Linked DNA regions of Homo sapiens. The protein of the gene in region 1 purifies or fractionates together with the protein of each later gene. This does not show direct contact. Each region holds a gene or a part of one and is shown on either strand. Other genes may lie near its edges.

The links.
Region 2: the proteins of LRTM1 (region 1) and NAE1 purify together in Homo sapiens (affinity purification with mass spectrometry; one large-scale study listed by BioGRID and IntAct). This does not show direct contact.

What each region holds. Positions count from the first base shown.
Region 1 is NC_000003.12:54,921,238-54,925,069, forward strand, and holds part of LRTM1 (leucine-rich repeat and transmembrane domain-containing protein 1 isoform 1 precursor), read right to left. Parts: coding exon 3,382-3,832; intron 1-3,381.
Region 2 is NC_000016.10:66,802,231-66,804,862, forward strand, and holds the end of NAE1 (NEDD8-activating enzyme E1 regulatory subunit), read right to left. Parts: intron 889-2,632; coding exon 779-888; 3' UTR 648-778; downstream 1-647. UniProt on the Homo sapiens protein: Regulatory subunit of the dimeric UBA3-NAE1 E1 enzyme. E1 activates NEDD8 by first adenylating its C-terminal glycine residue with ATP, thereafter linking this residue to the side chain of the catalytic cysteine, yielding a NEDD8-UBA3 thioester and free AMP.

The DNA.
Region 1 (3,832 bases):
CGTAGCTGTGCAGCCGTGAAAAACTCCCTTGACCACGTTGTGCCTCTGCTTGCTCATCTGGAAAGTGGGAGATGAGGATAATTAAAATTCACTTCCCAAGATTGCTCTGAGGACTCAGTTGGATAAAATATATCAAGTATTTAGCATAATACCTAGCTCAGAGTAAATGTTTAGTGAAGTGAAGATGACTTGTTTACTAGTAAATAGAGAGAAATATTAATCATACAATCTGTGTGCATATTTCTTTGGAGGAGATATTATTATGTATTCACCAAAGCACATCTTTTTGCTCTTAGGCCAGCAGGAAGACTAAATTTTCCCACTTTTTGTGGTCTATTTGAGGCCATGTGATTGAATTCTGGACAATGGAATTCAATTAATTGAATTAATTAATGCCACCTCCAGGCCATAAAGCCCCCGTGTAATCCGCCATGCATTTTGTTCCCACTTGGGGATGACCTTAGAGGCCACGTGATAAACTTGGCGACATCACAAGCTCGAGGGGTCTTATGTCCCTAAATGACTGCATGGAATGCAGACCATGCCCCCATTTCCTTTGAACTCTGCCATGAATGAGCAACAGATTTTATTGCATATATAACTAAAGTCTGGGCTAGTCTGTTATGTCGGTTAGCCTGCCCTAATACCTGTAGTGTTTGCATTTGTTTATATATCTTTTTTTAAAAGAAGATCTTGACTCATATCTGTTCCCTTATTTTGCCTGTATTCAATATATCTATAATCAGACTGTCTCCCATGTTTGACACATATTTGGATTTTTCCTAGTTATGTTGGGACATCCAGGTCTTATTACCCCAAATCAATTTCTGCCTTCCTCCGAAGAAAAGCTGTGATCTGTACTCATGCAGCTCTGTTGTGACGGCGTGTTGAAATGCGTCACAGAATCTGAGGACTGGAATGGGCCGTAGGAACTCCCTGACTTAAAACTATCAGTTTCCCTCTGGTGACACTGAGTGCTAGGGAAGTGTACTAATTTTCCCAAAGACCACCAGCAAGTTTGTGGCAGAGTAGGGCACATTTCATCCCATCCCAGGTTGCTTCCAGTGCCCTAGTCCTGGGAACTTTTTTTTTTTTTTTTTAATCAAGAAATGTTCTTTAATGAAAACTATCTTTCTGTGTTGGCTGGCCTGTGCTTACAATTTAATCCACAATACAATAGTTCAAGCCACTTTACCTGTAGACGTAAACAATTTTATTTGTAACCTCTTATAAGGAAGATGTTGCCATAGTATGTGGCTCCTGTTGCTGGTTGGCTTGAATGTCGACTGGATATTGATTATGTAATTTACTATTACATTGTTGAGAAGGATTTATTCAATATCGTACGTTTTAACCCATGTTGTATTCACCCTAACCTCATTCCCGCTGAGAACCGCTACAACCATGCAGACACTGTTGACTTCCCTAATTCATGTCTGTAGCTCCAACATCTTCCTGAGCTTCGGGCTTAAATATACAACCTCCAACTCAACGACTCCCCATGGATATGTACAGAACATCTCAAACTTGACATGCCCCAAGCTGAAGTCCTAATTGACCACCTCCCCAACACACTCACTCACTCCCCCCAGTCCCCTCTTTGCCCCTTGTCAGCTGAAGGCATCACCATTTACTTGATTACCACTGCAGGACAAATCAAAATAGACTTTCCCATAATTATGGTCTTCTCTTAGTCATCCACTCCAACCCATTAGCAATGTCTGCCAGTTCAGTATTCCAAGTATCTCCCAGCATTGATCATGTCTCACCACCCTGGTTTGGGCCACCATCATCTTCGCTGGCTGACTGAAATCATCTTCTCCCTCATCTCCCTGGTTCTTCTTCTGCAGCCTTTCGTCAGTTCTCCCAAGAGTCTACAGAGTGACCTTTTACATTGTAATCAGATCCTATTGTTCCCTTGACTAAAACTCTTCAAGAGCTTTCCATCTCACTTAAAGTCCAAGCATCTTGGCCTTCTCTGCACACTTCTGCATGATCTGACCCCCAAGTACTGGTGTTGTCTTGTCTGTGTCTACTCACTCCCTTCCTCTGCACTGGCCACTGTCTTGTCCCTCTTTTTGTCCTGCAGCCAAGCCAAGTTTTCCCCCTCATCAAGCCCTTTGCGTTCACTATTCCTTCCCCCAGTTATCTCATGGCTCATTCCTCCTCAGTCTTTGGGTTCTGCTCAGCCATGTCACCTCCTTGGAGACATCTTCCCATCCATCCTATCAAAAATGAGACCCACATTCTATCACTCTCCCCTTCCCCTGCCTCATTGTTTCTTAGCACTAACTGCTATTCTAAACATGTATCTTTATTTATCATCTTATTTAACATCTGTTTCTACTACCAGAATGGAATCTCTGTGATGGTTAGGCACTGCCATCTTCTCAGTGCCTGGCATACAAAAGGCACTCAAATATAGAAATGAATGAATCATGCTGAGAGCTAGGAAGAGTGAAGCACTGTGAAGTGGAGGAAAGAATGTCGGGTCAAGACCCAAAAGCCATGCCTTCTGTTCTCACCTGGGCTTCTGCTCTGTGATCTTGGGCAAGTCACTGAACCTCTCTGGGACTCTGTTGCCCATTGACAACAGGGGTTGGCAAACTTTTCTGTAAAGGGCCAGATAGACAATACAGCCCCTGTCACAACTACTCTGCTTTTATAGTGCAAAGCAACCACTCACTCATTATATAATGAATGGGCATGGCTGTGTTCCAATAAAACTTTATTTACAGAAACGGGAGATGGGCTGTGGCCCTGGGGCTGTAGTTTGCTAACCCTGGGTGGTTTCCAGAGTCCCTCATCTTTAATAGTCTGAGATCTCTTGCTTTGCTGTTGTCATCATGTTAAAGAAATTGTGAGTAACTTTAGAGAGAGGCCCTGTTGCACCCAATTTCAGTGACATTGGTGTTTGCTAAAGCAGAAAGGACAATTTTAGAAAAGAATTACAGTTGTCAAATGGGTAGAAGCAGACAAAGAGAGAAAAATATCCCAGAGAGAGATAACCATACCCACAATTGGATCAGACTTGATAATAAGAGGTTGGTGTTATTTGGGGTTGAGCAGTTATTCAGGTGGTGATTGAATGTCCTCCTTCTTAATAGCATACTCCCAGATAAGTAACTTCTTGTTATATTAATTAAACAAGTGAAAGTTATCTCCATGCAACATATTTGTAGATTAATTTCGAACCTGAATTTAAACACCTTCTAATGACTCACTTGACTCTTTTGCCATACCGTGAAATGGCACCGATGTGTAAAAGCCCAAATCCACCCCTTACACACTCCTCCACATTCTTTCTAATGCAGAGAACAGATGAGATTCATCCTAGGCTGGTAACACACAGATGGGGGGTTCCAAATAGACATGACTGACCTTTATAGACAAATTTCTCCAGCCAGAGTTTAAGACCGAGCAAGTGGCAATTGCATTTCCAGAGGTTGTCCTTGAGAAGTAAAAGCCTCACACTGGGCATGGATTCCAGGAGCGCTCGATCAAGCTGCTGAAGCTGGTTTTGTTGAACCGCAAGTATAGTTAGGTTCTCCCAAGTCTCTCCCAAGGATGTGGGAAGGTGGCTTATGTTGTTTGATGACAAATCAAGCTCCCTCAGCTGAGGGAGGGAATGGAAAAGTCTGCTTTCCAGGGAAAGGAGTGAATTCTGGGTTAGATTTAAAACCTGCAAGTGCTGAAGCCCATGGAAAGCTCCAGGGGCCAGATTTGAAAGGGAATTGTTGGACAAGTTTAAGGTCATGAGCCATGGCACTGACCTAAATGCAAAAGCAGGAAGATGGTGTATCTGATTATCTTGTAAATGCAGCGTTCGAGT
Region 2 (2,632 bases), on another chromosome or scaffold:
AGGTTCTCACTTAAGAGACGCTGGCCTCAGAGACAGTTGCAGCAGATTAGGGGCCTTAGCTACTAAGAGTCATGCACCACGGACCACGTTCCTCAGCCCTAAGTATTAATACATCAAGCCCAAAACCGGGAACTGCCCCCACTTCTGGATTCTGGATTTCCACTCTGTTTGCATCTACTACTTCCTTTTTTTTTTTGCCCTCTAATATGCTGGTGAATGCTATTAGTCCCATGTGATTAAATTTAAGAGTATATATAATATGAGTAGAATGACCCCATAAAATTTCAAGAAGTAGGTTAGGCAGCCAAAACTCAAGTTAATTAAGATAATACTACATACAAGGGGATGGTCTTGTTTTCTGGGAAAACTACATATCCAGAAATATCTTTTTAAATTCTATTCATTTTAACAAATGATGATGGTCCTAAAATGTCCATAGCTAACATCTGCACATGGCTTAAATTCATTATTGAAGATGGTAAGAAAAAAAATTTTTAATTATCTCTAATAAAACACAAGGATAATCTATGACAAGTAACTTTGAAATAGCAAGCCAATATTGATGCTCAGTGAGAAATGGATAGGATTCATTTTCTAGGAAAATGACTGTCTCCTTTCCCCTCCCCACAAAGAACAAGACTACATTATTACAAATGAGAAAAATGTTTATTAAGAAAACAATTTAGCAGCTCTCCTTTAGAATTTTACAGACTAAAGCACAACCCGAAGGCAATTACAGTTTCAATCATTAACACACTACTTAAGGTGCTTGCTTACTCTACAACTGGAAAGTTGCTGAAGTTTGTGACATGCCACTGTAAATGTAAGTATTATTAAAAATTACAAATTGTTTGGTGATTATTTTGATGACCTCTTGAGCAGCAGCTCCTGAAAGGAAAAAGGAGAAAAGCAAATCTTTGAAAGAGTAAACTTCAAGAGTTACATACTCAATTCTGTAAAGAAACTTTTCCTTTTCAAAAGCAAAGGTGTTTTAAAGTGACCCAAAACAGATGCAGTTAGCTTACTGAGTCATATCAACATAAAAGCCTATAATTCTTTTTGTTATTAAAGGAAATCTAAACAGTAGTGTGGTTGACCAAACTTTAAAGGATACACACAGGCATAAAAGATTCTCAAAGGACACCCTACTGCTGCATTTGAATTTTACCTTGTATCTGTTTTATAATAAAAAAGGAGAAAGGTATATTTGTTCTGAATGCATTTGTAATTTAGGAAGGATCTATATTAAATATCGCCAGACCGCTATATTTACTCAAAACAAAAAAACTACTAAGAAAAAAACTTGTGCATCTTCTATAACCTGAAGATTCCTCTTTCCCAAATATTCATGGACTGGATAGAATTTTTTTTTTTTTTTAGACTAGAGTCTCACTCTGTCACCCAGGCTGGAGTGCAGTGGCGTGATCTCGGCTCACTGCAACCTCCTCCTCCCAAGTTCAAGTGATTCTCTTGCCTCAGCCTCCCAAGTAGCTGGGATTACAGATGCCTGCCACCACACCTGGATAATTTTTTTGTATTTTTAGTAGAGATGGAGTTTCACCATGTTGGCCAGGATGGTTTTGAACTCCTGACCTCAAGTGATCCGCCCACCTCAGCCTCCCAAAGCGGAGGCCTTACAAGCATTAGCCACCGCGCTCAGCCGACTGGATAGAATTTGAGACTACTGTGCACCAAATACTGTTCTAGGCAGTAGGGATACAGTAAGGAAAAAAGACAAGAAGATCCACTTACCCTCATGCTACTTTTTAGCAGCAAGAGAGAGAGAATTTATTTACAAATAAATAGAATGTGTAGTATGTCAACTGACCATAGGTGCTAAGGAGAAAAAGCAAATAAGGGAGATATAAATACAAGAGAAGGGGTTTGTATTTTAAATAGGAGAGTCAGGGATGGCATCGCAGAGAAGACAGCATTTGAATAAAACCTGAAGGAAGTGAAGGGATATAATGGCACTGTGCAAAATGATTACAGAATGCACAGAAGTAAAAAACAAAAAAAAAAAAACAAAGAAAACCTTCAATTTATACTTTTTTCTGCTATAGTTAAGTCATCCAGTCCATCCATCTGGCTGTACCTCTTCTTAGATTCTGGACTGCATCTGAATAAATAATAATTTGCCCTTTTCTGTGAATTGGCAGAAAATTTTGCTACTTTGGCACAAGAGACTACTTGGTTTTAGTTTAAAATAAATTATTCTGAATCAGGCTTTAATTTGGATTTGCTTAGAAAATAGTTTTCTTAGGTCTGTATGATGCATTTACATTTTGAACACTTCAAATATTAATTAGACCTAAATCTGCCTTTAAAACATTCAACATCTAGAAGGAAAATGCCACAAGCTAATAGCTCAGTCTACAGGAGATCACAGGACAGTAATTTTTTTTGAGGGGTGTTATGGACTGAATGGTTCGTTTCCCCCTCAAATTCATATGTTGAAATCCTAACCCCCAGTGTAATTGTATGAGGATAGGGCCTTTGGTAGGTGATTAGGTCAAGAGCGTAGAACCTTCATGAATAGGATTAGTGCCCTAAGAAGAGACCCCAGAGACTTCTCTTGCCATTTTTTTTTTCACCATGTGAGAACACAGAAGAGAGAGCTGCCTATGAACCA